Regions from separate parts of the Homo sapiens genome. Here all the other regions are linked to region 4. The links come from fine-mapping of genetic effects on gene expression. A gene starts in region 4. Each other region holds a variant in brackets. All regions are shown on one strand. Distances are from middle to middle.

Evidence for each region. PIP is the estimated chance that this variant, and not a neighbour inherited with it, causes the effect.
Region 1: its variant is fine-mapped to the expression of AMIGO2 in blood mononuclear cells (TOPMed, PIP above 0.99). The same link has a PIP of 0.9 or more in whole blood.
Region 2: its variant is fine-mapped to the expression of AMIGO2 in lung (TOPMed, PIP above 0.99).
Region 3: its variant is fine-mapped to the expression of AMIGO2 in monocytes after R848 (Quach 2016, PIP 0.95).

What each region holds. Positions count from the first base shown.
Region 1 is chr12:47,213,871-47,221,978 of GRCh38, forward strand. PCED1B (PC-esterase domain containing 1B) reads left to right here. Exons shown (of 4, transcript NM_138371.3): 3 at 2,352-2,819. It overlaps PCED1B-AS1 (PCED1B antisense RNA 1), which reads right to left and starts at 2,573. Exons shown (of 3, transcript NR_026544.1): 1 at 2,514-2,573; 2 at 2,295-2,394. RefSeq lists enhancers at 6,772-7,272, 7,568-8,108. The variant G/C (reference allele first, on the strand shown) is at 4,848.
Region 2 is chr12:47,312,580-47,320,687 of GRCh38, forward strand. No RefSeq gene overlaps it. Among named protein-coding and RNA genes, the nearest start is that of LINC02416, 37 kb to the right of the region's middle. RefSeq lists an enhancer at 240-289. The variant C/T (reference allele first, on the strand shown) is at 4,350.
Region 3 is chr12:47,401,025-47,409,132 of GRCh38, forward strand. No RefSeq gene overlaps it. Among named protein-coding and RNA genes, the nearest start is that of LINC02156, 9.9 kb to the right of the region's middle. The variant T/C (reference allele first, on the strand shown) is at 4,824.
Region 4 is chr12:47,076,629-47,084,736 of GRCh38, forward strand. It overlaps AMIGO2 (adhesion molecule with Ig like domain 2), which reads right to left and starts at 3,331. Exons shown (of 3, transcript NM_001370299.1): 1 at 2,834-3,331; 2 at 2,514-2,620; 3 at 1-2,437. The coding sequence starts at 2,374. The coding sequence ends at 806. It overlaps PCED1B (PC-esterase domain containing 1B), which reads left to right and starts at 2,993. Exons shown (of 4, transcript NM_138371.3): 1 at 2,993-3,097.

The DNA of each region.
Region 1 (8,108 bases), 140 kb after region 4:
TTTATTTTAAGTTTAAAGAGTATAAGTGTGATTATCATTTGCATTATTACAGCTCTTCTGTTCTCTGGTCTTGGGATGATTACAGAGATTGTCCTTTTATTCTCACAGTGCACAGACTAGCTGAAATCTACAGAACTAGAAAGATTTGCAATTCATTTATAGAATTGCTAGAACTAAATAATGGCAGATTTTTCAAAGTTATGTAATAGACTACTCTGGATTATAAAATACTAAAGCTATCAGTTGGGTTCTGCCTTGATTCTATTAAATTTCCCGGTAATGACTGTACTAAAACTCATGGGGAACTGCAAGATAACTTTATTGATGGCCATAGAGGATGAAAACAATGCATAAGGTATGGAATTAATTTTAAGCCACACACTGAATAGACAGTGATGTAAAGTAAAATGATATTTTTCAAGGAAAGACAATTATGTCACATTATAATCCAGTTTACATAAATAGCATACTATTAAAAAAAGCTAAGTCTTCAGAGCATGTAATTCAGGACTGTTGTGAAACCTCTTACTCTTGTTGGTTAGTTATTTTGTGCTGTAAGGGAGGGAAAATGGCTTCCTCCCTACTTCTAGGTTCTTTGGCTGGGATACAAATTAAATTGACATAAAACAGATTAACAGGAGAAAAAAACATTTTTGGCCAGGCTCGGTGGCTCATGCCTGTGATCCCAGCACTTTGGGAAGCTGAGGTGGGAGGATCACTTGAGCCCACGAGTTCAAGACCAGCCTGGGCAACATATTGAGACCAAATCTCAATTCAAAAAAAAAGAAAAGAAAAGGAAAAAACATTTTTAATTATATGCACACACACTGGAATCCCCCAGGTAATAAAAGTTGTCTGAGAGCAGGACTCTTCCTGATACAGATACTTTGACTAATGTAGATTTCTTTTATAAATATAAATTTATTTTACAAAAGGACAGCTTTTCAGAGATACTCTTGTGTCTGCAGTTGCTCAGAATAATCAGCTCGAAATATGCCAAATAACTATATTTTGGGGTGGCATATTTTTTATTTTTGAGATGGAGTCTCGCTGTTGCCCAGGCTGAGGTGCAGTGGCGCAATCTCGGCTTGCTGCAACCTACGCCTCCTGGGTTGAAGCGATTCTCCTGCCTCAGCCTCCCAAGGACCTGGGATTACGGGAACCTGGGGGTGGTATATTCTGATCTTCTGTAGTCATGCACTGGGACCTTCTGTAGTCATGCATTTTCTCTCTCTCTTTTTTTTCTGATTCATTATTTCCTTTTCTTTTTCATCTTGGTATTTGTAGGGAAAGTGATATTCCTCTCCCCGAAATCATATTATTCCAGACAAAAGAAAACAAATGCCTACACTTATCTAATCAATCAGAAGACCATCTCCCCCACCCTTTTTTTTTTTTTAAAGATGGAGTCTTGCTCTTGTCACCCTGACTGGAGTGCAATGGGACGATTTTGGCTCACTGCAACCTCCGCCTCCTGGGTTCAAGCGATTCTCCTGCCTCAGCCCCCCGAGTAGCTGGGATTACAGGGGCCCACCACCACGCCCAGCTAATTTTTGTATTTTCAGTAGAGACGGAGTTGCACCATGTTGGCCAGGCTGGTCTCGAACTCCTGACCTCAGGTGATCCACCCGCCTCGGCCTCCCAAAGTGCTGGGATTACAGGCATGAGCCACAGCGCCAGACGAACCATCTCCCTTTTAAGCACGCTGTCCCCTTGAGTTACCTGCTGGTTTCAAGTGGAACACTAAGGGAGGAAGCAGAAAGTTCTTATCTTGCTCTGCCACATACTGGATCTAGCTGAGGCTGGGGCTCAGGCCTGTGGTTTCCTGTAGTGTGGACTGAGCCATTTTTCCATCAAGACGTCAGTGGAGAGATGAAGTGAAAGGATTTAAAAGCGGTTTGTGGCCTGCCATGGTGGCTCACCCCTATAATCCCAGCACTTTGGGAGGCCAAGGCGGGTGGATCACCTGAGGTAAGGAGTTCGAGACCAGACTGGCCAACATGGTGAAACACCATCTCTACTAAAAATACAAAATCAGCCGGGTGTGGTGGTGGGTGCATGTAGTCACAGCTACTCGGAGCCTGAAGCAGGAGAATCGCTTGAACCTGGGAGGCAGAGGTTGCAATGAGCCGAGACCATGCCACTGCACTCCAGCCTGGGCAACAAGACCAAAACTCCGTCTCAAAAAAAATAAATAAATAAAAATAAAAGCGGTTTGTAAACTGTAACACCTTGCACAGAAACACAAGATTACTACTATTAAATATTATTTAGAAAAGTAGAGTTCTTCTTACCATTTCCCTGTTTCTTTCTTCTCACTTCCTCCTTTCCCCTTCTGACCATCTTTTCAGCCGTGAACATACCACACCAGCAAGAACAATAAGAGCCAAGGGTCTGAATTGTTTAATCAAAGGAAGAGTCAAAATAAGCTACACCCAGATTACTGAGAAAGGTGAAATGAAAACAAGCTCAAAACCAAATTCCAGGAAGATGCTGTCTTTGTATTGACTTACCATTTCATGTTTTCACACATGTCAAAGTCTTGAAGCTTCGGTCATTAGTCTTCCGCTTCCTAAAGCAAGAAACTAAATGCTGACTTGTGTCGTTTGCCCCAGATGCCACCGGAAATGTCATCTTCTCCCCAGACGCTGGCTTGCAAGCACAGCAGCACCCAGAGGCTAACCTATTTCCCCTATAGCCCAAGCTCTGAGATCTCCCGTCTGGTCACAATGATCTACAGGAGAGGAAGAAAGCTATCTAGGGACGAGATCTAGAATCAACTGAGAGAGATGCTTAAAAATCACCAGTTACTTTAATGAGTAAGTACTTTTCAGTTTTTCCATTTTATCTGAAACTTTAAGTTGGCATTTCTGACCAGCCTTTCTTGAGACCATCATTTTTTGGGCACTTACTGTAGACAGGAATCAGCACCCTAGCCTCCTTCAGCCCACCCCATGTAACACTAAAGAGACAACTGGTGCTTGGCAATAACAAAAATATTAGTGATTGATAAACTTGTAAATTTATTAAAATGGACAGTGAAAGAAAACAGCCAATTTAGTTGTGAACTGGAGAAGGGACGTGAGGCATCTGTTGTCTGCAATCTTGTATGTTGTGGTTGACCACAAAGGCTTGGCATCAGGTTTTACTTCCAGCACTACTTCTTATAAAATGGATGACCTTGGGCAGATTACTCAATCTTTTAGCCTTAATTTTTAAAAGTATAAAATGGAGAAAATTAGAATATGTAGTCCAGGTGCGGTGGCCCACACCCGTAATCCAAGCACTTTGGAAGGCTGAGGCAGGTGGATTATTTGAGTCTAAGTTCAAGACCAGCCTGGACAACATGATGAAACCCTGTCTCTAAAAAAAACTATAAAAATTAGCCAGGCATGGTGGCACAGGCCTGTAGTCCCAGCTACTAGGGAGGCTGAAGTGGGAGGATTGATTGAGCCTGCAGAGTTGCTGCAGTGAGCCATGATTTCGCCACTGAATTCCAACTTGGGCAACAGAGTGAGACAAGAAAGAAACAGAGAGAGAGAGAGAGACAGAGAAAGAAGAAAAAAAAAGAAAGAAAGAAAGAAAGAAAAAGAAAGAAAGAGAAAGAAAGAAAGAAAGAAAGAAAGAAAGAAAGAAAGAAAGAAAGAAGAAAGAGAAAGAGAGAAAAGAAAAGGAAAGAAAGAAAGAAAATAATTTCTTAGGTTGTTTTTGTTTTTGTTTTTTTGTGATGGAGTCTCACTCTGCTGCTCAGGCTGGAGTGCAGTGGTGCTATCTCTGCTCACCGCAACCTCCGCCTCCCAAGTTCAAGCAATTCTTGTGCCTCAGCCTCCCAAGTAGCTGGGATTACAGGCACGCGACACCACTCCCAGCTAATTTTTATATTTTTACTAGAGACAGGGTTTCACCATGTTGGCCAGGCTGATCTTGAACTCCAGACCTCAGGTGATCCGACCGTCTTGGCCTCCCAAAGTGTTGGGATTACAGGCATGAGCTACCGCGCCCTTCTTAGAGTTCTTAAGAAGAATAAAGAGATAAACTGGTAAAACATGTAAATACTTTTTGGAGGGTATGCTAAATAATGCCACTAAATAATTAATGTTGCTAAATAATAAGTTAAATGCTTCATTTAACTGGAAATCTCCCTTAACCACTAAGCCCACTTTCCAGATATGCTAAGGTGGCTCAGAATAACAATAGCAGCGAACATCTGTAGAGTTTACACAGCATTTCATTTGATTTCCACAATTAACTCTAAGGTAGGCAGTGCAGAGCTGTTGACTTATTTTTGGAGCTGGAGGAGAAGAGAGAAGCGAGAGCTCGGCTGGACACGGCAGCAGGGAGAAAAACCCCTAGGTCCGTTGTTGGCACTGAAGTGGGGAAAACCATGGCCTGGGGAAAGGCCTAATGTGAGAAGTTAGTCGGTGTGCATAGGCAGTATGACATTCATTTCACCAGCACAAGATTCTTGTTCCTCAGCTTCCTTAGTCCCTGGACCTTGCTTGTCCTTTCTTCCGCTCCAAGCCGTAGAGCTTGAAACTGGCAAGTCCTCAGTTGCACTGCCAACAGGCAAAGCAGTGGGAACTCAAGTTTCCAGAATCCTCTACAACATAGTGTGAGTAAAAGCCAAGGCAGAGACAGTGTCTTGCTCTGTCATCCAGGCTGGAGCGCAGTGGTGCCATCACGACTCACTGCAGCCACAAACTCCTGGGTGCAAGGTATCCTTCCACCTCAGCCTCCTCCTGAGTAGCTGGGACTACAGACATGCGCCACCACATCCTGATCATTTTTAATTTTTTTTCTTTTTTTTTTTTTTTTTTAGAGACAGAGGTGTAGCTTTATTGCCCAGG[G/C]TGGGCTTGAACTCCTGGTCTCAAGCAATCGTCCCTCCTTGGCCTCCCAAAGTGTTGGGATTTCAGGTGTGAGCCACTCTACCTGGCTGAGACTTGCTCTCATTTTTAAATTCAAAAAATGTTTTCCATAGATCGGCCGCCTGTGGAAAAAGGTGACTCAGGCCTGTAATCCCAGCACTTTGGGAGGCCTAGGTGGGTGGATCACCTGAGGTCAGGAGTTCGAGACCAGCCTGGCCAACACGGTGAAACTCCGCCTCTACTAAAAATAGAACAATTATCTGGGCATGGTGGCAAATGCCTGTGATCCCAGCTATTCCGGAGACTGAGGCAGGAGAATCACTTTAGCCCATGAGACAGGGGATGTAGCGAGCCAAGATTGCACCACTGCACTCCAGCCTGGGCAACAGAGTGAGACTCTATCTCAAAAAACAAAAATAAAAAAGTTTCTTTTTCCATAGAAACACTATTACACATAGAATTTAAATACTACAAAAATGGTAACAATAATGATAGCAACAATAATAAAATAATGTCCATTTTTAAAACTCTTTTGGGTAATCCCTTCAGAGGAGCATAGGTGCTATTTCCCCCATTTAAGAAGTAAAAAACTAAGTAGCACAAAGATAAAGTAAGCATTAGAGGTGGAAGAAATCCAGGCCTGCTGACTCAACCCTAGATTCCTGTTACTGAGTAAATGGACTTTTGTAGCTAGTCCTGGAGCAGAATTGTCACAATCCAACCTGTTCATCAGTTGAAAGCACTCGTCATTATTAGCTCTCCAATCGCCCTTGTTTTTCATCCATGGGAACTTTTAATTCAGCCACTGGTTGGAATCTAGAGTAGTCAGCATAAGCCTAAACATTTGAAACACAAATATAGCTTTAGTGCAGCACTGGGTTTTCCATCGGCTTTTAAGAAGACTAGCTAACAGAGTGATGAAAATCGAACTAAGTTATTTCACACCTGCTTTGTTTTCTCATGGAAAAATTTAAAGCTGTGCACAAAATATTGTTTTGTTTTTCAACAGAGAATAACAAGGAAAGCTACATGCAAATATTTCTTTCTAGATAATATGATTTTTTTTCTTCTTAATTTAAACAAGTATTTATAGCTGAGATTAAAAGCTCAGGCTTTGGAGCCATACTTCTTCCTAAAGAAACAAAAGGAAACCTTAAGCTTATCTAATTATTCAGAAGATTCACTGTCAATAATGGGTGTGGTGGCATGAGCCTAAAGTCCCAACTACCTAGGAGGCTGAGGAGGGAGGATTGATTGAGCCTGGGAGGTTGAAGCTGCAGTGAGCCGTGATCATGCCCCTGTACTCCCAGGTGACCAAGGGAGACACTGCCTCAAAAAAAAAAAAAAAAAAAAAAGAAGAAGAAGAAGAAGATACATTGTCAAAAGAATAGTTCTGCCATTTACTAGCTGGGCAACCTTAGGCAATTTATTTATTTATTTTTAATTTATTTTTTGAGACAGAGTCTCATTCTATTGTCCAAGCTGGAGTGCAGTGGCGCGATCTTGGCTCACTGCAACCTCTGCCTCCCGGGTTCAAGCAATTCTCTTGCCTCGGCCTCCTGAATAGCTGGGATTACAGGTGTGTGCCATGACACCAGGCTAATTTTTGTATTTTTAGTAGAGACTGGGTTTCACCATGTTGATCAGGCTGGTCTCAAACTCCTGACCTCAGGTGATCCACCCACCTCGGCCTCCCAAAGTGCTGGGATTACAGGCGTGAGCCACTATGCCCAGCCAACCTTAGGCAATTTATATAACCTCTCCATGCCTCAGTTTACTTATCTATAAAATGGAGATAATAATACTTCCTCCTTCACCGGGTTGTGAGAATGGAATAGGCCTGGCACAAAGTGAGTGCTCAGTGAGTGCCGATGATTACTAGGCACAGGCACTGGGCCCTGAGGGGTACAAGGATGGGTGAGACCCACTTCTGCCATCCAGAACTAGCATAGAGTGGGATAGAATGGCACATGGGCAGTTAATTATAGAACAAAACAGAACCAAAGGTTAAGTAGAGGCATCCCTCAGAGGAAGGAGAGATTTTTCTATCTAGGAGAGTAGGGAAGGCTCTCTGACAAAATTGTCTTTTAACGTGAGTCTTAATGAAGGAGCAGAATTTCAGTAACAGGAAAGGGTTGGGGAACATTCAAAGGTGAGTCACAGAGACAAACATAAAGACATGAGAAAAGGCCCTCTGGGCTTATACAAACCCTATGGTTCCCTGCGGGCTTTCAGAAGATCCCAAGAAGAAAGGATCATATCCCAAGACATAAAAAGTTTACAGAATGCAAAATGTTGGAATTATTCTAACATATTAAATGAATTTGAAACTTTAAAACCTAGATGATGAAGTTTTATGTAAGAAAACATATAAAATTAAAACTATACCAATTAAAAAATAATGTTTTAATCAAAGACACACTTTTTAAGGACTAAGAAAAATTGGGGGAAAGTAAAATATTTAACCATAAAACTGAAAACAAATGTGACATTGATCACTGTGCTCAGCTTCCCAAAATATATATTGCAACATTCCCCTCCTCCCTAAGCTATATCTTCAAAATATATATATTGTTTCCAATATTTGTTAGACATCAAAATTCTTTTTTTTTTTTTTTTTTTTTTTAAGAAAGGGATATCACCATGTTGTCCAGGTTGGTCTTGAATTCCTGGGCCAAGTGATCCTCCTGCCTAAGCTTCCCAGAGTGCTGGGATTACAGGTGGTGAGCCACCACGCCCCGCCAACATGAAAATTTTTAAATGATTGCCAGGATACAGATCAACCTAAGGATTTCTTCACAATTAAAACAAAACCAGTCATCAAAAATAAAAATGACTTTATCCACACATTTCAGAAGCAAAGTATATTTCCACCCAATTATGTATTCCCAGCCAGTGCTTCAAGAAAAATTATACAGCAGCTCTCTGAAATTGCCTGGTGAGAATGTGCTGCCATCATTCCCATTGTTGGTCAATGCAATATTTACATTTAGGGAGACTGTTCAAAGGTCACAAGACAATTATTTGAGAAATTCAGCCACAGTTTGATGGGAAGATAAATGAGTGTCTAGAGAAGTGGGAAGTGGCTGGGCATGGTGGCTTATGGCTGTAATCCCAGCACTTTGGGAGGCCAAGGCAGGAGGTTTACTTGAAACCAGGAGTTCAAGACCAGACTGGGCCACAAAGCAAGAGCCTGTCTCCACAAAAAATTTTAAAAAATTAGCTGGGCATGGGATGCACACT
Region 2 (8,108 bases), 240 kb after region 4:
AGTGTTAATATAGGAGACTAGATTGTAAACTCCCCACGTATTTTAAAATCTCATAGATTTTTAAATTAGGTTTTATATGAACCACCCTCTAGCCTTTTAGTTTTCCCCTAGCTTTACCTCCTCATTTCTAAATTTGTTTGTATTTCTAACCCTGTACTTTGTCAATGTGATACTAAAATAGCTGAATATAAAGTGAGATTTTGGTAAATGACCCATGATTTTTTTTTTAGTAATACCAAATGACAGTCCATCATAGCCAGTCTGTCTTCTGGCAGCCCTGATTTCTGAACTTTGCACATATTGGAGATTATTTTGCTTCTTTCTACCTACAGAACATGTAGGGGCCTGGGGATGTGGCAAGAATCTCACACCTCTTGGAAAGAGGAAGTGAAATTGGCCTTTTGCAACTTCATTTTAATAAAGGGCCTGAGTTAAAGTCTAATCCCAGCCGGCTGAGCCAGTGATAATGTAAGAGTGTGTGTGTGTGTGTGTGTGTGACCATTTTCCTTGGAGAATCCTGCTTCTTAGACTATAATCCTAGATATTATAAATGAATAAATAAATAAAGAACCATGAAACTCTGGTTGGCAGCGCAGGTTAATGATCTGATTGTGGCAAGAGAGGACCTTGAGTCTTATCAATTTTGTATGTTTGTACTGGGGGAGCTTGTAGGGAGGATAGGGTTGCAGCAAGTACTTGTGGAATATTGATGGATATTCAAGGCAAATATAGACCCAGGAATTATGAAGTAAGCACTTACAGGAATCCAAAAGCCCATAAATTAATGGACATCTCCAAAGCATTGTAATACCTTGATAGTATAAGAATCGTGCTCTCTAATAACTTAAAACATGGCCTTATTTTTGAAATCAAAACCTTCAGCATAAACACATGTCCCTTTTGTGCTTACATACCTTATGGCTGCCATTAGCTACAGCTCTTTATACATGGGGCACTGTATATTATTATTAAAACCATCCAGCAAAAAATGATCTCCTGTTGCAACTTTGAATGTACTTAGTGAAATAACTTTCCAGACCTCATAGAGCATTTGGAAATATTTTCCTTATATACAGAACTCTAACTACTAAGTACCATTCTTTCCCAAGGTCTTCAGAGTTCTTTTTTCTTTTCTTTTCTTTCTTCCTTTTTTTTTTTCTTTTTTGAGACAAGGTCTTGCTGCATCACCCAGGCTGGAGGGCAGTGGCATGACCATGACTCACTGCAGCCTCAACCTCCCAGGCTCAAGCAATCCTCCTGCCTTAGGCCTCCCAAGTAGCTGGGACTACAGGCGCATGCCACCACGCCTGGCTAGCTTTTTAATTTTTTTGTAGAGATGGTGTCTCACTATGTTACCCAGGCGGACAGAGTTCTTATTTCTAGGAATAATAACATGAATATTTACTCATTCATTAAAAGAGAAAGGTTTTACGCTTAATACTTTCGTTGTTCTGTTTTTTCTTAAGGTCAGCACCAGAGCTACTTAATAAATAATTGTGCTGTCCTGAAACCACTTTGGGGTAACTCAGCAGAGAACCCAGGCTGCCAACCCAGGGCAATATGAGTACAGTTCCTTCAGGCTGGGAGGGATCCTGGGCTTGTGGCCACCCTAGGGGCTGCATATTGTTGACTCAGGGAGAGCCATGCCTGCCTAAGGGTAGAAAGGGAAAGCCTGTAGCAAGCAGGAAGAGTTGATAGGTACTAAGATGGAGAACATTCATAATATAAAACCATTGTAACCACTTTTAAGTGCACAATTCAGTGACATTAAGTACATTCAAAATGTATGCAACCATTACCACTATCCATTTCCGGGACTCTTCCATCATTCCAAACTCCGTGCTCATTATACAGTAACTTTCCATTCACCCTGTCCCTCAGTCCCCGGTAACCTCTATCAAACTTTCTATCTCTATGAACTTGTCTATTCTAGGTACCCCATATAAGTGGAACCATATATTTGTCCCTTCTTGCCTGGCTTATTTCACTTAGCATGATGTTTTCAAGGTTCATCCATGTTATAGCACATGTCTGACTATTCATCATTTTAAAAATTCATCATTTTTAAGGATGAATATTTACATGACATTTTGTTTATCCATTCATCTGTCAAAGAGCAGTGAGGTTGTTTCCCATCTTTTGCCTACGGTGAGTAATGCTGCTATCAACACTGATGTTCAAGTATCTATTAAAATCTCTGTTTTCATTCTTTTGGGTGTATACCTAGGCAGATGAGGGTTTTGTTTTTGTTTTTGACCATCAGAGTTCCAACTGGTGCTACTTTTCCTTTTAAATACATTCTAGGTCTATTTGAGTTTTTTGTTTGTTTGTTTGTTTTTGTTTTGTTTTGTTTTGGGGGACAGGGTCTTCTTGCTGTGTCACCCAGACTGGAGTGCAGTGACACAGTGACATGATCACTGCAGCCTCAACCTCCCAGGCTCAAGTAATCCTCCCAACTCAACCTCCTGAGTAGCTGGGACTACAGGCATGAGCCACCGTGCCCAGTTGAGTTTTTAAAAAATTTTTGTAGAGAAGTGGTCTCCCTGTGTTGCCCAGGCTTCTATTTGTTACATAGTCATAACATCTTCCTACACCTTTTTTTCTGTCCCAAATAAGAATTACAGTGTGTTCATCAACTGGAGAAACAACTTCCCTATCTGGGTTTTCACCCAGAACTGCTCAGGTCCTCACAGCATCTGACAACAGCCAGTAGTTGAGTGTCTCTGCTTTCAAGAATTTCAAGGGTCAGGACCTCAGCCTGGGATTGGACCCCAAAAGTAAAGTAAACCATACTGCAATTTTGTGCAAAAAACAAAGATTAAGAGGACACAGGAAAGGGACAATATGAAAAATAATTTATTTTATTTTTATGACAAAAAGGAGTAGAGAAAATTAACATAGATGAAACATTTTTCCTTAAGCTTGTTTTAGTTTTGTTGATAAGATAGTAAGCAACAATGGGAATGGGAATTGACAAAGCCCAATTCATCTCTCATCTGATCCTTAACTGTACTGATGAGAGCATGTGTCTGATCCTAGAGAGGGAAGAGAAGAGTTTCCAGGGAGGGAAGCTGAGACATCTCTTATATATAAAATGGTTGCCCTAAAGAGACATGCATGGCTAAACTCAGGTGACATGGTAGAGACTGAGTTGTCTACCTAATATGTATTCTATTTTTATTTATTAAGCCTGACTGTGTTTGGAATGGCAATATACCTGTGGAGGCTAAAGCAACTCTATCTTGGTTGCTAATCATGTTGACAAAGCAAGGATGTGTCTTATTTATTTTTGTGCTCTTCTCACCCATCCCAGAGAGGAGAAAGTGTGGAGCACATAGTAAATCTTCAGAACATGTTTGATGTTGGATTGAATAATCTGCTTTATTTTATCATCTAATAACTCCTTAGTTAGATTAGACGGATGGCTGGTGAAAAAGTGTTTGGACTGATACTGTATTTATCTGCTCAGAATAAAAATATCTTACAAAAATCTATTATGTGTTTATGAAAGAAAGCCATCAAAATGTTAACAATAGTGGGATTGTCAAACTTCCAGATTTTCTGCACTTTACATATATAACTTTTGTAATTAAAAAATAGTTGATTTCCAGCCTGGCCAACATGCTGAACCCCCGTCTCTACTAAAAATACAAAAAATAGCAGGACGTGGTGGCACGAGCCTATAATCCCAGCTACTTGGGAGGCTGAGGCAGGAGAATCGCTTGAACCCAGGAGGCAGAGGTTGCAGTGAGCCGAGATTGTGCCACTGCACTCCAGCCTGGGTGACAGAGCAAGACACTGTTTCAAAAATAAATAAATAAATAAATAAATAAGGTTGATTTTAAAAATCTACTTAGAAAGCAGAGATTTAATTAAATATTATGGCTTTTCAATAATTTTTGTTGTGTACTATGCTCTCCCCAAACCAGTAGCCTAATAAAATTGAGTTTGAAAGTCCTCCATAAATTAACATGTTCTAATAATTCTATAAGAAAGAATGGAGATACAATATTTGATCTAGAAAGTGGATATCCAATGATCATCTGAGCAAGGAACACCATCCTCCTTAAAGTAAACAGCACACAGCTGTTTCCATCATGCTGACTGTAAGAAGATTATCATACTCAGAAAAGAAATTCCAGGAAACTGCGTTCCAATTAACATGGAAATGAATCCACAAAATAAATATGTATCCAGAGTTTATGCAATCCCAGGGTACAATGGAGACAGATGCAGATTGATCTAATCTGGTTGCATTAGGAATAAGAATGTTTGTTGGGGAACATTGTGTGGAAAGTTGACATTTGGTTCAATCAGGAAGGCCAAAGTAGAAATTATGAAAGCAATTT[C/T]CTTTGTCCAGTTAAATTAGGCATTCAAATAACAGGCTACTCTTTGACCTTCCTGGGAAAGGTCAGGATGGCATCGAATGGTCATTAAATAAATAGCAGGCCTGTTCTTGTAAATACTTTGTGAGACTTTAGGAAAACATATTCTGGATTGAAAATCAGCCAAAAAAGATCTGCAAGAATTTCTCTAACATATTTTTATTGCTTCTATTTATCCATTTTTAATTTGGAGAAATAGTAAGTACTGGTAAAAGCACAAGAACAAACTGAATATGGGGTCTATTGAACAAAATTAAGAGGTCACTTTTCTGCCACTTGCTAATATGTGCTGCAGCTGCTAAAAAAAGGAAGTTTTGTTGTTTGTTTGTTTTGGTTTTGGTTTTGGTTTTGAGACGGAGTTTCGCTCTTTTGCCCAGGCTGGAGTGCAATGGCGTGATCTCGCCTCACTGCCACCTCCTCCTCCCGGGTTCAATTGATTCTCCTGCCTCAGCCTCCCAAGTGGCTGGGATTATTGGCAGGTGCCACCATGCCTGGCTAATTTTTGTATTTTTAGTACAGACGGGGTTTCACCACGTTGGCCAGGCTGGTCTTGAACTCCTGTCCTCAGGTGACCTGCCCGCCTTGGCCTCCCGAAGTGCTGGGATTACAGGCGTGAGCCACCGCACCCAGCCAGAAAGAAGGTTTTTTGAAAAATAGCTCCTGTGGATGTCTCCCCAAGGCTCCACTTGATATAGCTAAGGAGAATTCCTGGCATGTATCATAAGATATATGGTTTCTTAATTAGATGGGTGACTTGCAGGACTAGAATTTAAGAACACTCTTCATGCTGCCTTAGGTTATAATTCCCAGCTTGCATTACAGCAATGGACATGCTGTTAATATTTTCTCCAACAGTCCAAACTGCAAGTATATGAAGTTAAATCAAATCTCTTTTCTTGTCCATTAAAGTTCAAGTTGCCATAATAAAAGCTGGCAAGTTGTTTTTATAAACACTAAATTAATAGAACAGATTTTGGCTGGGCACAGTGACTCATGCCTGTAATCCCAGCACTTTGGGAGGCTGATACAGGAGGATCACTCAAGTTCAGGAGTTCAAGACCAGCCTGGGCATCACAGGGAGACCTCGTCTCTATTAAAAATAAAAATAAAGACAACTAGCCTGGCTTGGTGGTGTGTGCCTGTGGTCCCAGCTACTTGGGAGGCTGAGGTGGGAGGATCCCTTGAGCCCAGGAGTTGCAGTGAGCTATGATTGCACCACTGCACTCCAGCCTGGGTAACAGAGCAAGACCTTGTCTCAGAAAACAAAACAAAAAATAAATAGAACAGATTTTAAAGTTATTTTTATATTATTCATACATCTTTTTTGCCCCTATCTTCTCATTCAGATTCAGATTTACCCAACATTTGCTATGTGTCAAGCTCCATGCTGGAGGATTTCATATTAAATTTACCATTATTTAGCCTTATAATTAGAGGTGGTTCAAAGACAAAGCCTGAATTAGGTGTTTTGATTCAAAATCATGGGTCCTTCAAAATATCAGTGGATTAGATTATTATCCTCGTGTAACTAAGATAATACAAGAAATATTTGGAGTCATATTTTAATGTGTTATCATTATTGTTATTGTAGAAGTAGTGTATATGCATCCATAATTTTTAAAATTTAAACAAAACGTAATTCCGTAAGTGAAAAGTAAAAGTTGTCCATCTTTTTCCTTCCCTACTCCCAGTTTTTCTCTACTGAAATACAGTACATTGTAAAAATGGCCATAATATTCTGTAGTTTCTCCCATTAAGAGGTAGAGTTGGCCGGGTGCTGTGGCTCACACCTGTAATACCAGCACTTTGGGAAGTCCAGCTGGGTGGATCACCTGAGGTCAGGAGTTCGAGACCAACCTGGCCAACATGGAGAAACCCTGTCTCTACTAAAAAATACAAAAATTAGTTAGGTGAGGTGGCATGCACCTGTAGTCCCAGCTACTCAGGAGGCTGAGGCAGGAGAATCGCTGGAACCCGGGAGGTGGAGGTTGCAGTGAGCCGAGATTTGCCACTGCACTCCAGCCTGGGCCACAGAGCAAGACTTCTTCTCACCAAAAAAAAAAAAAAAAAAAGGGTAGAGTCACCTTGAATCTGGGATGGCCTTGCCACATGCTTTGGTCAATAGAATACCACAGAACTGGCATTGAATGAGTTCCAAGCGTAGGCCCCAAGAGGCCTTGCAGCTTCCTATATTGTGTTCAAAGAGCACACTCTTTGAATAATGCCGTCACCATGTGACCACGCCCAGGATTGCCTGCTGGAAGGTGAGAAACCACATAAAGTACAGATGAGGGATCTCAGTTGAGACCCCTCAACCAGCCAAACCCCAGCCAACCTGGCCAGAACTGCTTGGATGAACCCAGCCTAACTTAATGGACTGAAGAATCATGAGATAAAAAAAAAAAAAAGGTTGTTATATTAAGCCACTAAGTTTTGGGGTAATTTGTTATGCAGCAGAAGCTAAATGATACAAGAGGTGACCATTTGAACAATTTCTGGCATTTGCAGACCATAAGGACACAAGAACAGCTATAACTCCATAGAATAATGAAATGATAAAGGAGAGAACCTGTACTATGAGCCTAACATGAACCTAGGGTAGGTAGAACTAGAAGACCATCATTAAGGAAATAAAAGGGAAGATGGAGAGAGTAGAGAGAGACAAAGTAAGGAAGGGGTTTTGGTTTTGTACAAACATGTAAATTCAAGCCTTCCTGCTTAAAAACTTCTCAGGCACAATACTTATGTGTTTGCTGTCAATCTAAGCAGATTTTTGTTGCCTCACCTTCTCAACTGGACAGAATTGCAGTGTGGATGGGCCTATTGTCTGGTTACCAGCAAAGAGAAATCTCATGATTGTGTTTGTAGGTTGAATTGGTATTATGTGGGTTGTGGCAGCTGCTGCCTGACTGACAGCTTCATCTCCTTCTGACCACCAAAGAGGACTGAGATGGCTCCAAGAAGGAGTAAGAGAGAAGTTGTCAACAACTTGGTGCAGAAAGGCAGGTGGAGCCAGTCTCTGCAGAGACCCTGGTAACTGAGCTCAGCTGGCATGTGCTGAGGAAATTCACAGTTGACCACTGCTCAGTACAGATGATGACTAAAGAAATGGCTCTCCCAGCAAAGGGAGAAAGATCCAGGCCAGTATACACTTAGTCTGTCACAGCGTCAGATCTGGAAATAGGGTAAGGGGAGAAAAGACTGTTTTGAGTATGTGATAGAACTCTGTAAGAGTATTTTTTAATGAGGAGAGCAAATGGGTAGTGAAGGGGAGAATTCAGAAATAAAACTCAGAAGACGAGCCCTCAGCAAAAGGGGTTTAACAACAATATAGGCTTAAATAGAAGGAAAACTCTCTGTGAGAGTTAGGACTACAAATGTTGCCATTCTTGGAACCAGCGCTTTGTACATAAATTGGTTTTCTTTTTCTCTCTAGAAGCTTTCGGGATCTTTTCTTTATATCTGGGGTTTTGAAATTTCAAAATGATTTGGCTTTTTGATGGACATGTTTTTCATTTATTTATTTATTATTATTATTATTTTGAGATGGAGTCTCGCTCTGTTGCCCAGGCTGGAGTGCAGGGGTGCGATCTCAGCTCACTGCAACCTCCGCCTCCTGGGTTCAAGAGTTTCTCCTGGTCCAGGCACAGTGGCTCACACCTGTAATCCCAGCACTTTGGCTGAGATGAGTGGATCACCTGAGGTCAGGAGTTTGAGACCAGT
Region 3 (8,108 bases), 320 kb after region 4:
AACAGAGTAAACAGACAACCTACAGGATGGGAGAAAATATTTGCAAACTATGCATTTGACAAAGGTCTAATATCCAGAATCTATAAGGAACTTAAACAATTGAACAAACAAAAACCAAATAACCCCATTCAGAAAGACATGAACAGACACTTCTCAAAGGAAGACATACAAGTGGCCAACAAGCATGAAAAAATGGTCCACATCTGATATGGTTGGGCTTTGTGTCCCTACCCAAATCTCATCTTGAATTGTAATCCCTATAATCCCCACACGTCAAGGGAGAGAACACGTGGAGATAATTGAATCATGGGGGTGGTTTCCCCCATGCTGTTCTCGTGACAGTGAGTTCTCATGAAATCTGATGGCTTTATAAAGGGCTCCTCCCCCTTCACTCAGCACTTCTCCTTTCTACTGCCTTTTGAAGAAGATGCCTTGCTTCCCCTTTGCCTTCCATCATGATTGTAAGTTTCCTGGGGCATCCCCAGCCATGCTGAACTGTGAGTCAATTAAACCTCTTTCCTTTATAAATTACCCAGTCTTAGGCAGTTGTTTATAGCAGTATGAAAATGGACTGATACAACATCACTAATCATTAGATAAATGCGAATTAAAGCCATAATACGATACCATCTCACACCAGTCAGAGTGGCTGTTAGTAAAAAGTCAAAAACAACAAATGTCAGCGAGGCTGAGAAAATAAGGGAATGCTCACACTCTGTTGGTAGGAATGTAAATTAATTCAGCCACGGTGGAAAGCAGTTTGGTGGTCTTTCAAAGAACTTAAAAGTGAATTACCATTTGACCTAGCAATCCCATTATTGGGTATATCCCCAAAGAAAAATAAATCATTCTACCAAAAAGACACATGCATTCATATGTTCATCACAGCATTATTCACAATAGTAAAGACATGGAATCAACCTAGGTGCCCAGCAATGGTGTACTGGATAATAAAAATGTGGTACACATACACCATGGTATACTATACAGCCATAAAAAGACTGAATGTCCTTTGCAGCAACATAGACATAGCTGGAGGCCATTATCCTAAGCAAATTAACACAGGAATAAAAACAACAAATATCACAAATTCCCACAAGTGTGAGCTAAATAAGCATTGGGTACTCAGGGACGTAAATATGACAGCAATAGATACTGGGGACTACTAGAGTGAGGAGGAAGGGAGTGGGGCAAGGATTCAATAACTATTGGTACTATGCTCAGTACCTGTGTGACAGGATCAATCATACCCCAAACCTTAGCATTGTGCAATATACCCATGTAACAAATCTGCACATTTCCCCCTTGAATCTAAAATAAAAGTTGAAATTAATAAAAAAAAATGAAACCAGGTTTGCTGGCCCTGATGCTAGCAGGCACACTAAGCAGTTGACTTCAGGGTACAACTTGAAAAGGACAGAAGCAGTTGACTTCAGGGTACAATTAGAAAAGGCCCAATTTAAAGTGTCCACTACCATCCTGTCTCAGATATGGAAATCCCACCATGAGTTTTGTCAGACTCAGTCTTGGTCCTTGCCCACACAGCATCCCTCAAATCCCCAATCAGTACCCATCAGATCTCCATTCCTGGCAAATGTGGGACCTACCACCTGTCCCTGGAACCCACTGAGACCTGAGGCTGAGGCTGTGCTAGATCACCCAACCAGCAGCCTAGTGACACTTAGAACATCTACAGAGCAGAGAAATAAAGGAGGGAAAGAATTTATGCTTGATTCATTTGGAGCATTACTGTCAGGCATGGTTCTAGTTGCTAGAGACACAGCAGAGAATTTATACCCTTAGATTTTAATAAGGGAAGACAGACAATAAACAAAATTTAAAACACCTTATATGGTATGTAAGAAGGTGATAACACATAACAGGGAAGGAGATAAAGAACGTGGGTTAAGGGGAAGTTAGAACTTTCCCGATATATATTTTTTAAAGCTCTGATGAGGTCATCATGAGAACAAATAAGATTTTTGTTGGTCTTTCATACAGTTATTATAGAGCTTCATGTTGTTTATATTTTGAATTACACATGGCAGGTGTGGGAGAAATGTGGGCATTTAGAACTCCTAATTTTGTCCAGAACCCAGGCAGAGCATGAAGTGCACCAGCCTCAGTCTGGGCCCAGTGTGATTACTAATATAAGACTCAACCTTTGCATCCTGATTCTAATCATTGCCACCTGCCATCTCCATGCCCAGACACACCCCTCTACCTAGGCCCAGGGCTGATGAGGATTCATGGATGCCCTGATTCTAGAAGCCTGTTCTGATGACCTCTCTGAGTTCAGTGCTCCCTGAGGTTCCAATTCTTATAGCTGGGTTTCTGTCTTGGTAACTCTTCTTCAGCTCAGAGTCTGGTCTTCTCTTTAAAGGAAACCTGAGGCCAGAGCTGTGCCTTGTTTTTGACAGTATCCATCCCTGAGGACTAGACAATCCTCCTGAGTCCAGTCCAGAGTGGGGCACCTTGTGATACACAGTTGGACCCCTAGCTTGCCTGCCTGCTATTTCAGAGACATCCACTGACCACAGTCGATAGGACAAGCCATCTATCCCATGGCCCTCCAACTTCAAGTCTGGCTCAGAACTTGACATACCCTGAGAAACTGACCTTGTTCCTCAAAGTGCTTTGAAGCTAGCCTAGACCCCTGGCTTCTTCATGCCTATGAGAAAGTGATATTGTAGGCTCCAGCCCCTCCTCTCTGACACTGCCCAGCAATAACTGGCCCTTTCAAATGCACGTCTATACTATCATCCTTTCCTTCAGAATTCTTCTCTCTCTCTCTTTTCTTCTCTCTCCCCTTTCTTCCTTCCTTCCTTTCTTTCTCTTTCTTTCTTTCTTTTTTTCTTTCTTTTTCTTTCCTTCTTTCTTTTCTTTCTTTCCTTCTTTCACAGCTTTATTAAAGTAATTTCCATTCCATGACTTTATTTTTAGTAAATTTAGAGCTATGTATATATCACCACATGCCAGTGTTCAAACAATTTCATCACCCCAATACACCCCTCATGTCCATTTGTAGTCTAGTGCCATTCTCACCTCCAACCCCAGGCAACCACTGACTTACTTTCTGTCTTTATAGACTTCGCTTTTCTGGACATTTCATGTACATAGAATCATGCAATGTGTGGTATTTTACATCTGATGTCTTTCACTTAACATACTGTTTTGAAGATGTGTCTATGTCATAGCATGTATTGGGAGTTTTTCCTTTTTATTGAATGAACATACCATATTTTATTTATCCATTCACTTGTCGATGGACATTTGGGTAGTTTCTAGTTCTGAATAATACTGCTCCATGAACATTCATGGACAAGTCTTTGCATGGACATGTGTTTTCATTCCTTTTCAGTTTTTTTTTTTAGCACAAATCATATTTAAAGTGGGAACATAATTAATCAATAATGCTTTGACTTAAGTTACTACAGCTTAAGAACTGGAGGACTGTAAGAGAGGAGAAATACAGTGGCCGAAAGGTGGAAAAAGGAACATAGGAGTAAATTCATCTCCTCAAGGGGCAAAGAGAGGAAACAAAGGCAGTCACAGCCCCATCCATGTGTCTCTGCTCCCTGGTTTAGATGGGAGAAAAATAAAGCAGCCTCCAGGGAAATGTAGCTTCATGTAATTATCATGTTTGATGAAAAAAGTCAATCAATTGTTGAGGTGTTTTCAAATATGCAACTGTTCCACATGCATGGATGGAAGGTCCTGGTGCCATCCTTTGCTTCTCACTCTCCTTCACCTCCCCATTCCACTGCCATCACCCAAGTCCAGACCCATCATTCTTTTTTGCATGGACCACTGGCCTCCTTATCTGCTAACTGAATTTCTTCTCTTCTTTCTCCATGCACTTCCAGAGTACTCCTTCTTTAGGATAAATCTGACCATGCCACTCTTCTGATAAAACCGATCGAGGTTCCCCAAGACCCCAGCTTGTGTCATTGGTCTCATTTCTCACCAGCGGCTACTCTGCTCCTATTACCCGCTCCTTCATAGATTACCTTTATTGAGGTAATTCACATTCTATGATTTTTTTTTTTTTTTAGACGGAGTCTCGCCCTGTCGCCCAGGCTGGAGTGCAGTGGCGCCATCTCGGCTCACTGCAAGCTCCGCCTCCCAGGTTCATGCCGTTCTCCTGCCTCAGCCTCCCGAGTAGCTGGGACTACAGGTACCCACCACCACGCCCGGCTAATTTTATATATATATATATATATATATATATATATATATATATATATATATATATATATATATTTTTTTTTTTTTTTTTTTTTTTTTGGATTTTTAGTAGAGACTGGGTTTCAGCGTGTTAGCCAGGATGGTCTCGATTTCCTGACCTTGTGATCCGCACGCCTCGGCCTCCCAACGTGCTGGGATTACAGGCTTGAGCCACCACACCCGGCCACATTCTATGATTTTTTTAGGTAAATGTAGAGTTGTGCTGTTTTTAAGTAAATGTAGAGTTGTGCCCATATCACCACACGCCAGTGTGAGAACATTTTCATCACCCCATTTTCTTTTTTCTTTTTTTTTTTTTTTGAGGCGGAGTCTCGCTCTGTCCCCCAGGCTGGAGTGCAGTGGCGCGATCTCAGCTCAGCTCCGCATCCCGGGTTCACGCCATTCTCCTGCCTCAGCCTCCTGAGTAGCTGGGACTACAGGCGCCCGCCACCATGCCCGGCTAATTTTTTTTTTGGTATTTTTAGTAGAGACGGGGATTCCCCGTGTTAGCCAGGATGGTCTCGATCTCCTGACCTCGTGATCCGCCCTTCTCGGCCTCCCAAAGTGCTGGGATTACAGGTGTGAGCCACCGCGCC[T/C]GGCCCATCACCCCAATATTTCCATCACAGTATGTAGACACTCTGTGCCTCAGCCTTTTGGAAACACTTTGTCTCCCAAATATTCTGCTTTTTTCCCTTCCAGGCTTTCGAAACTGCCACTGCCTCTGCCTGATACATTTTCCTCCTTGACCCTCTTAACTCCTGCTCATCCTCATGTCTCACCTTAGACACCTCTTCTTTCTGGAGGCCTCCTCGAGCCCACAAAGAGTAGTAGCAGGGCCTCTCTTGGATGCCTCACAGAGTCATCTCACCTCAGGCATAATATTCATCACACGATGCCCTTCCCTGTTTACATGTCTGTCTTATCCTGTAGACCAGAAGTTTCCCAAAGACCAAATCAATGCCCTCTTCACCAGTGTCTCTGTAGCAGCCAGCACCGGGATCTGTACAGCACATATTTATTAACAACTGCCTCCAAGGCTCAAACCAAATGGCATATTATGTCCATAAGAGCAAGATTTGGAGAGGAAAGCTTGAGACAAAGACTTCAATTTCTTGTGTGTTCTTATTAATCAGATGTTATTTACACACACACACACACACACACCTGTGAAGAATGCAGGCAACTCCAGCATGGTGACTTTTTGGGCCACTGTGGATTGTGTGGGTTCTAGTGCTGGCTCCTCCATGCAAGAGCTGGGACACCCTGTGCAATTCCTTCAGTCTTTCTCCATCTGCCCAAAGAGCTGCCTATCTTGCAGGATTATTGGACAAATCTGGTAGTGAATATAGATTGTGGATCTTAAAAATGACGAACAACTATATAAACATAAGGAATTATCATATACTGCTTCTCCTCTGCTTTTCAAAGAAATCCCCTCGCAATCTTAGAGTTACACAACAATAACCTCATTGCTTAGAAAAAAAATTATAACAATAATTCCTTGCATTAGGATCATAGCAAATGTCTTCAAAGTACTTTCAGGTCCATTATCAAATTAGATCCTCATTAACGGGTAGGAAAAGTAGAAATTATTATCTCTATTTTATAAATAGTGAAACTGAGACCCAGAGAAAATGTGATTTACCCAGGGTCATGTAACTGTGACACAAAGCTTCAGGAAAGAGTCTTCAGGGCTTCAGTTTTCTAGTTGGGCTCCGCTTTTGCCATATTGGACTTCTCCTAAGGATTTCAACTCTGGAATGTTTCATCTTGCATGCCCTCAAATACCCACCCCCCAACACACACACACACACACACACACACACACACACACACACACACAGAGAGAGAGAGAGAGAGAGAGAGAGACATGCCCCAATCTCTAGGCAATCACACAATCTCAAGTTCACAGAAAATTCCATCCAAGAAAATACTTGCATCCAGAGAGAAACACAATACAGACTCCTCCGTGTGCACCCAAGCAGTTGGGCAAAGCATAACACTTAGTTCTATATAAAACTAAACCTCTCATTTCAGGAAGTAATGGAAAAAAAAAATCAACCAAAATTTCTGCATTGAGATAATAAAAATATCTTTTGTTATTCCTTAAAGGCAGATTGTAGATGTACTACATGTTAATTTGCTGTCAATTTATTCATTTTTTAAAATATAATCTCCTCCAGTCAAGGTGGATTTAATTCCATTTTCATCTTGTGTACTTCCTTTCAAGGCTTGGTAATTTCTTTTCTATTTTTATCCATTCCACTTTTGCTTCCTGTCAATTTTTATATCAAAATCTGCTTCAGTTCCATTTGGCAAGGTGCAGTAACAAAAATACTTCTCATGCTTTAATGTTTAAATTTGCCATTGCACTTTAATATGGTTCTCTGTTTGTGCCAATGGCGTAACGTCAGCTCTTTCACTTGGCACAGATCCTGGACTTGCAGAAGGCAGGAGTTCGATTTCTATAATGGTTCTTCATCACTATCTGAAATTATCCTTTTTCCTATTCATTTAGTGTGCATTGCACACCCACTATATGCTAGACACTGTGTGTGTGCAGCAGGAATGCAGCTTACATAGGAGATAAAATAAGACAGCAACTGAAAAAATGCTGGTATATGATGTCAGCACAGGTGTTCTGAGGAAGACCGTGCCCCTGCCATCATGCAGAGGAGGAGGGAAAAGAACTGGGACACATACCAGTCACTAGAGGCCATGAGATTTTTCTCTTATCTGAAAGAAGAATATAAACTCAATGTGTCACAGACTGAGGCCATTCTGCAGCCACTAGGCCATGCGACATTAAGCCATAGGACACAGGTATGATTGGCTAGAAGCCTGGTCCAAGAAAGGGCCCTGTGGGAGTGCAAGGGACACTACTTCACCACTGAGACCACAGCCATGGATACAGACTCATTTTACCAGCATTTTGAACCACCTGTCATGCCACAGGGAGTGTCAAGAGCTCAGGCTCTGGAATGAAACTACTTAGGTTCGACTCCTGGCACTGCTACTCATTACCCATGTGCCCTGTATGTAACTAGTTTCCTCACCTGTAAAGTAGGTCCTTAGGATAAATAATTGAGTTGGTCAATATGAGTAATGGTTAGAACAATCCCTGGCACATAGTGAGCACTCAAGGTATTTGTTATCGTTTCCTGGTTTTGTTTTTTCAGGAAGTGAAACCCACAGGTTCTGTGGCTCTGCAGTGCCCTCTCTAGGATGCTTTTGTGGATGTGCAGTGGCTCAAGGTGCAGCAGGTAGGACAGAGCTGGGCAATTTAGCTGGTGCCAAACACAAGTGCACCATCTTACAGCTGCCCCCCATCCCTATAATTGCCATATCACCCTTCCCAGTCACCAGGGCAGGCCATTTTCTTCTCACATTGGGAAGAGAAGCACAGAGCAGAGTAACTGCCTCATAGAAAACACACATGAGAGAGTCATGCTGTCAGGGTTGAGGTTTTAAAATAACTTGCTCAAAATCATATGTCAGGCAAAAGCCAGAAGAGGAATTTGGACCCAGATCTGTCCAGCCTCAAATGTCTTCCCTCCCCACATTTCATCACAGTTTGAGGTGATATATAGTGTATACATATACACATATATCCTCACACCCCAGGGTGGACTTCAAGTTCACTGTAATCACATTGCACCTGTATGTAATATGGGGGTGGGTGAGGAGTGTGCAGAAAATCATACAGTCTCTTTGGCCCCAGGTACAACTAGAAAAATATTAGCAAATATTTTATTAGTTTCTACTTCGTCACCCTCTCATATACCACACCTGCCTCTCTCAGGCTTATCTGTCTAAATGAACAAGTACATTCATTCATTCCTTCTCTAAATGATTTTTTAGTACCTACAATGTTTTAGACA
Region 4 (8,108 bases):
CACATAATTTAAGATTTACATATACACAAGCACATGAACCAATATTAGTTTGCTAGAACAGGGATTTAAGAAGTTACTCAGACATTTTGGTATTGACACTTACATATTTATGGCAACAAATTATGATGACTTTAAATTTTCAATGAGATCTTTTGTACAAGAATACAGAATGGGAAGAATGTACAAAATGAAAAGACAGGCAAACAAATGTACTTTCCTTGCACTATTTCTATAACACCATATAGGATGTGGCATTATCCAGTACATTTTATCAGTGTAGTCTATTCATTCTGGTCTAAAACGGTAATTTTGGCTGAATAACCCCCAAATCTAACTTTGCTTTAGGCTTTATAATTAATTGATGCTTGATTCTTCTTTCTACATCTTTTAAAAATGAAATTGGACACTAGTGTTTTTCTTTAAAATAACTCTGGTACTAGTAAGTTAGCAAAGTCTATTTTTAAAGGACACTAATACATAAAGTTTATTTTTTCTTTCAATATCCTAAATAAAGGGACAATGGGAGTCATATCACCTTTGGGCCTACTCTGAAATTACCAATAGTGCTAAAAGCTAAGATATTGTGATCTAGAACTTAAACTTTGGAAAACAACCCCATCTTTCTATGGCACATTGAGGAACTGAAGTACTTTACCTCATTTCCTACCAATCATTTTAAGAGAATTTGGTTGTATTTCAAAGAACAAAACAACACAATTTCTGTCCTGCTGTTTATTTTGCAGACCACACACAAAGTTAAATATGAACAGATTAAATTATGACATCATACAAATATAGGCACAAATTAAGTGGACGCCACAAAAGGTGTGTCAGAAAACACTGAATTGACTGAATCTGAGTCAGATTTCCCCCTCGTGGACTTTAGGATGCCCTCAGCTATCACTGCCTCGCTGGGAAAGAGCCTGACTTTCCCGTTCTGCCCTGCTGCAGTATCCTTCAGGGGTTCCAAAAACACCACTCTTTTACCTGCACCTGCCTTCCGTTCATCAGCGGAGGCATCACTAGCGGGGCCAGGACTGAGAATCGATGAATGGGCATTGCTTTGGTGTAGCATATTTTTCTGTCTCTTGGTTTTACACTTGCAGGGGCATGGAGTCAGATAGAGGTACAAAAGTACCAAAACGATACTGGCCACGCAAGCAGCAAGAGTGGTAAAAGCTGTGTTAAATGCCTCATGAGCATGGGATCTGCTTACAGTGAAATTGCTCACATTTATTGTGACGTCCACAGTTTCATTTAACAGGCGTTGCTTATTCATTGCGATACAAGAATACACTCCAGCATCCTCAAAACGAGGGCTTTCTATAACCAGACTTCCATTGTGAAACACGTAAAAGTTTTCCATCTCTTTATCCGGCTCTAGCAGTCTGTTATCTGGACCCACCCAGATGAAATCCGTATTTGCATTACCTGTCTTGCTGTCACAGTGGACCATCAGTCTTTCCCCGACCTGAGCCTCATGAATAAAGCCAAGCGCACGAAAGGAACCATTGATGATGCTGTCAGAGCAATTCATAAAGCTATCCTGGAGCAGAAGTACCTGACGCGAGTGCCTGGAGTCAGACCACAGGCGACAGGTGTAATCGTTCTTAAAATCCATCACTGAGCTAAAGTGCCTACGATACCAAAAGACCAGCAAGGAGTACAGGGAACAGTCACAGACAAATGGGTTTCCATGAAGGTAGATGCCTCTCAGCTGTTTTCCTGGCACTAAATTTATGTGGTGCATTGGCATGGAAGGAATTCGGTTATAAGAAACATCTAAAAACATCAGTTCTGCCAGCTTGAACCTTCCAACATACAAATCCATCGGAAACTGTGTGAGAAAATTTCCACTTAAGTAGAGTTTCTGCAACTGGGAGAGCCCTCCAAACGCTGAAGGATCGAGATAGGATATGTGATTGTTGTAAAGCAGAAGCACTTCCAGAACCTTCAACTCTTGGAATACAGCATTTTTCACCGTCTTCAGCTTATTGGACGATAAGTCAAGACACTTCAAATTTGGAGTTGTGGAAAAACTGCCCGTGGAAATGCTGGTGATGTTGTTATGACGAAGAATTAGGGTGTTCAGCTTTGCAAACGATACTGGAATCCACTCAGAATCCAGAAGCCCAATTCTGTTATAACTCAGGTCCAGTCTCTTAATCAGTCTGAAAAGGTTCCCAGGCACCTTGGACAGGTTTTTGTTGGTGCAGCTGACGATGTCAGTGGCACAGATGCAAGCGGTGGGGCACACCCCAGAGGCACCAGGGCCCACAGTCACTGTGATCATCAGCAAACACAGCAGCTCCCTGCAGCCCGGTCTGACGACGGCTCCAAGCAGGGTGGGCAGAGTGTGTACACGTAACGACATTATGGTCGCCTCTGAGTCTCTTCCCGGTGTCTTTTCCACCGGCTCAGCCTCCCACCAGTGAACCTGGCAAACAATTAATAATTCAGAGGGAGTAAAAAGCAGAAACTGACTACCACTAGTTAACCCATAAGAGCCATACCTTACTTTCTTTCCAATAACTTTTGAAATGGGTTTTATTTCACAATAGGGAGCTCTGTGTTGCCTCTTCACTGTTAAATGTATTTTTTCCTCTTTCCTGGGTTAGTCCTGCTTATAAAAATGTACAGTCACATTCTCTCCATACAACCCACCGTCTCACCCACCATCAGAAACTCAATTTTTTCCTAAGGTGCATCCTGCGTTGTTGTTGTTGTTGTTGTTGTTTTAAACTCCCTCCAACAGACACAACTATACGCAAACGTACGCTACAAACAATTAAACGGAAATACTTAGCAACCACCCATCCAGGAAAAAACTCACGGTGCTGGGGAGCCTCGTGGGCTCCGGGGAGGCTGCCTACGCAGTGCCTTCCGAAGGTCTGCGCGTCCGTCTGTCCGTGTCTGTCACTCTTGCACCTTCCGACTTCCTTTCCCTCCGGCTCCCGGCGGGCGGCACCCTCTAGCCGGCTCTCAACTTTGAGGAGTTTCAAGCAGCCGCGGCGGCAGCAGCAGCCCTGGACGCAGCAGCCAAGCTCTTCGCTGGCTCCCGGGGGCTCTCCCGGGTTCCTCTCATTGCAGGCTGAAGGTACCGCCTCGGCGCTCTGGCCGCCGTGTGCCCGCGCGCGGGGCGCCCCGCTCCCAGAGCCGGGGCCGCGGGAGGGGGCGCAGGCAGCCGGGCGGCAGCGGGCGGCCCCGCCTCTCCGCACTCGGGAGGCTGCAGGACCCGGGGTTCCCGCGCGCCCGGGGCCGGGAGACGGGCTGGGGCGCCGGTCCCACCCCTGCGCGTCCTGCCTCCTGCGGGCAGCAGCTCGGAGCCTGCGGGAGGGAGCAGGCTGGGCGCGTGGTGGGGGGCGCGCGATGCGGAGGGGGCGGCGGCGCAGCCAATCCGAGAGGCGGCCGGCGCCCCCTCATACCGCCCCGCGGCCTCGCCGCCTCCTCCCGCTTTCCTCCTCCAGCTCCCACCCGGACCTCTAGAACGGCCGCGCAGAGCGGGGAGGGGGCAGGGGTCCACACCAGAGGCCCAGACTCTGGTCCTTGAGTCAAGATGCCCAACCCACTCGCCTACCAATTACGTCCCTTCGTCCAGCTCCAAGCCGGGCGGTAATGGGGTCCAGGAAGGCTAAAGGGGACACGCCCAGCCACCGAGGGAGGGGTCTCACCCTTGGAGACCCACTTCGCGGCGGCCGCACAGGTCACGTCTCTCTCCCCACCCAGGCCAAGGAATCCCCGGACCTCTTAGAGCTTTGCTTTGGGGCAAGGGCCAAGGAGGCTTTGCCTGCGCCAAGTGCAGTTGACTGTCTGGGTTTACAAAATAAACCCAGAAGCAGCCTGACGTCTCCGCTCGTTTCTAGGGAGGAGGTCGCGGGGAGGGAAGTCGGGAACGTTTCCTCTCCACAGGGATATCTGCTGGGAGGAAGTAACCGGGAAATCGCCACGGGGACACCCCTCACCTCCCTGGGAAAGTTCTATCCCTTTCCTGACTCAGGAGGCGGCAACAGGGATGGTGTCCAATTCAAGAAGGAGGAGGGCAGGAAAGAAGGCTTGGAGCCGACCTTCCGGCTGGAATGCAAAGATAAGAGTATTAACCCAAATAATAATAATAATCCCAGAGCAGACCTTTTTTTCTTTTTTCTCTCTTCTCCTTCCCCTCTTCTCTCTCCCTCTCTCTCTCCCTCTCTCTCCTTTCTCTTTCGTTCTCTCTCTCTCATTTCCTCTGTCTCTGTCCCCGCCACCTCCCCGTCTTTTGCAAGCGTGCTCGTGGCGCGTGCGGGACAGGGAAGTAAGGGGCGTGTGCGCGGAGGCTCTTCATCCCTTCCGGAGATGCCGCGGCCGACCAGCGCGCTTTGGTTCAGCAAGCACAGAAGGTGCAAGCCGAACAAGGCCATTCAGAAATGAGGTGGAGACTATGAGGCTGATGAGCTCTACGATTAAAAATCCATTTTTGTTTAATTCCAAGATAAGTTTTAACGATGGGATTTGAGTGAGTCAGATCGCCCATTTGGCCATTATATCCGGATTAAAAGAAATAAATTACTGCCTTGACAAAAGATGCCAACCACAGTGGAATGAAAAGCAACCAAATTGAGGAAACAGTTGGGGCAGGATAGATAACTTGTAATATTACTTAAAAATAAAAATGATGAGGACAACCAACTCTTCCTCCCCTCCCCCGCGCACCTTTTCACTTGAGCAATCTTGAATTTAGTGAAAGTTGTTTCCTACATGGTCCGTGAGTCATTGCTGTGGTCAGGCAGATTTGTTAGACCAACACCTAATTTAAATAGAATTGTTTGTGGAATAAAGCCGGGCTAGCACTAATAAATCTAGGCATTTTCAGATGAGGACAACTTGATTCAGATTAATTTATTTCATGAAAGTTGAATTTTATCATAAGAACACAGCCTAAAATGCTTCATGCAAGCATTTCTTACTGTGTACTTAAAGGGGAGAGGCAGAAGTTGAGATTTTCTAGTATTAGGCCACACTTCCTGGGATTCTCAAAAGCTTGGTCTCCAGGACTTCAATTTTATAGAGTTAGAATAGTTAATACAGAGGAATAGAATTAAAATCGCTCAGAGGAATATTTTTTAAATGACTAATAAATGACCAGGTTTTTGCAGGATTTTACTAATTAACATCGTATTTTAAGGAAACCATGAAGGCAGAAGAAAGACCTGTATTTAATGCAAAAATAGTCTAAAAAGAATAAGTGATTCAAAAAAATGGAAACAGGAAGGTTATATTATTATAACTACAGGCATATTGTAGAAACATTATGCAGAGATTACACAGCAAAAGTAAACTAAATGCACTCAAAATCCATAGACAAGGCTATTTATCCATTTGAAGACCTGATTTGGGGGATTTCACATGTTTGTGAAAGGGAAGAACGTTGTAAAAGGATTGAGTTTACTAGCTGGGAGGAAAGAAAGATAAGAGTTGATCTTAAGGTATAAGACGTGACCTTATTTTGTGGAGGATAACATTTTTATCTTTCTAGCATCCCTTCTCCTTCTAACAGATTCCCTCTTTCCACTAGAAGGTAAATTCCAAGAGGATAGCAGTTTTATCTGTTTTGTGTATTGCTGTATTCTCAGCTCTCAGAACCCTGCTTAACACATTCAATAAATTTTTGATAAATGAACTGATGAACAGGGAACCTATTCAAAGTGGTTAAGATAACGGTTTACCCCAACTGAATCTGCTGGTTGCTGTCCTGCCTTTTATGCTTTGAAAGCTTGTCTTAAAAAAAAGGAGAAGAAAGAGAAAGAGGAGTCCTGTAAATGTTATTTGAGTCCTGGATCTGGTAGTACCTGAAGGCCACTGCATACTTTTACTTCCTTTTTAATTATATTTTCCACCCCACCCCCTTTTTTAGCTTAAATTATTTTGAGTTGCATGTCACTTGTGACGGACAGAGTACTAACACATGTAATGATGGTGATAATAAATATGTACTGAGCCTTTATTATATGCCAGACACTGAGCTATGCGTTTTACATGCATTATTTCATTTATTGCTCACCACAGCCCTGTGACATTATATAATCCTATAACCCAGATGGTAAACAACTGTGTTCCAAATTATTTGAAAATGAAATGGGATGCAATTATCTCAAGGTTCTATTTGAAGGATTTAGATTAAACAGAAGAGAGACGTTTCTGCCAGGGTGGTTCCAACCTGGAATGGGTTGCCAAGACAGATGGTTGAGTTGCCTTCTCAGGAGTTTAAAATAGGATGCGATAGATATTCCTCTGGCCTCTTCCACATGACATAATACATTGGAATTTTTGACCATTCAGTAATGACTCCAAGGGATAGTAGAATGTGGCTTGACACTTGACATAATTCTGAATCTAGTATGCTGAGAAGGGGGTGTGGTCATGTGAGTGTCTAGCTGGGTTTGGAAATACTATCTGCCTGAGGCAGTAATTTGAGGTGATGAAATCACAGGAGTTCTAGCCCTGTAATTTCCACAATTTCTCAGGTTGTAATCAAAGATTTAAGTAATTAGAGATATGAGACAAGAAATTAATAGCACATGTTTGATGATTCTAAGTCATTTTTACTAATAATTAACACTTCAATAGCACTTTATGTCCTAAGAAGGGCTTTCACATTCTTTATCTCCTTTGACTCTACCACGCGTCCTGTAGTCAGGTGGAATTTATACACTGGCAGATATCTTGTTGCCTCTTTTTTCGGCGTGAGGCACACTGGGTGTTCTTTGGAGATGGAGCTCACTGGGGTCACTGATTGCTGCATGCAGGAGCTTCCTGTGGAGTTTCATCACTCTGGCGGGCAGCACTCTTAATAGGATTTTTACAGTGTAACTTAGCTTGAACCCACAAGAAAAACATACCTTTGCCCAACAACTATGGAAGTGCACTCAGCTCCTACAGCATCCTGTTCTTCTCTTGGCCTGCTCCAGTTGGTTTTTGTAAATTGCCTAAGATTTTTTATAGAACCAGATCTCTCACCCCATCCTGTGTCTTTCATTATATGGAGATACATTTTCTGGGAAAACTCAGACTCCAGCTCCTGTGCTTTCTGAACTCCAGGAGGCATGGGTCAGCTTATGGCATGTTTCTCTGGACGCTCCCTTTACTTGGCTGGAAATGGGGGGATAGAATGGGAGTATTCAGTATTCTGCAGGAGGTACTGCATGTCCTCCCCAGGAAGAGCTCACAATGGGGCTACTCTTTAAGCAGTCTCCACTCACTCATCTGGTTGGTCTGTCTCTTATCTTCATTGACATAGGCCGGACAGTTTTTTGTTTTTTAATTCACTTGAGATAAAATCCACATGACATAAAATTCACCATTGTAACAATTTTAAAGTGCGCAGTTCAGTGATTGTTTAATATATTCACAATACTGTGCAACCATCACCACTATCTTAATTACAGAATACAGATGCTCCTCAATTTACAATGGGATTACATTCCAAAAAAAACTCAATAAATAAGTTAAAAGTGCATTTATTACACCAAATCTACTGAACATCATAGTTTAGCCTAGCCTGCCTTAAATGTGCACAGAACACTTACACTAGCCTACAGTTGAGCAAAATCGTCTAACACAAAGTCTATATTATATTTAAAAAAGTGTTGAATTGCTCATGGAATTCATTGAATACTATACTGAAAGTGAAAAACAGAATGATTGTATGGGTACTTGAAGTATGGTTTCTACTGAATGTGTATCACTTTTGCACCATTGTAAAGTTGAAACATCCTAAGGCAAACTGAACCATCATAAGTCAGAGACTGTCTGTATTTTCATCACCCCAAAAAGAGGTCCTATGCCCATTAAGCAGTTACTCCTATTTCCCTTTCTCTCAGCCCCTGGCAACCACTAATGTACTTTCTGTTTCTATGGATTTGCCTATTCTGGACATTTTATATAAATGGAATCATTCAATATGTGTTTTTTTGTGTCTGGCTTCTTTCACTTAGCATGTTTTCTAGGTTTGGACTGGGATTTTTAGCTAAGGGTTGCACAGAATCTGTTAGGATCACGCTGTTGAAAGACCTGCATAGGTTAGCTGCACTTTAACTTAGAATGTGGTTGTGGGGACCAAAGTTCCACTTACC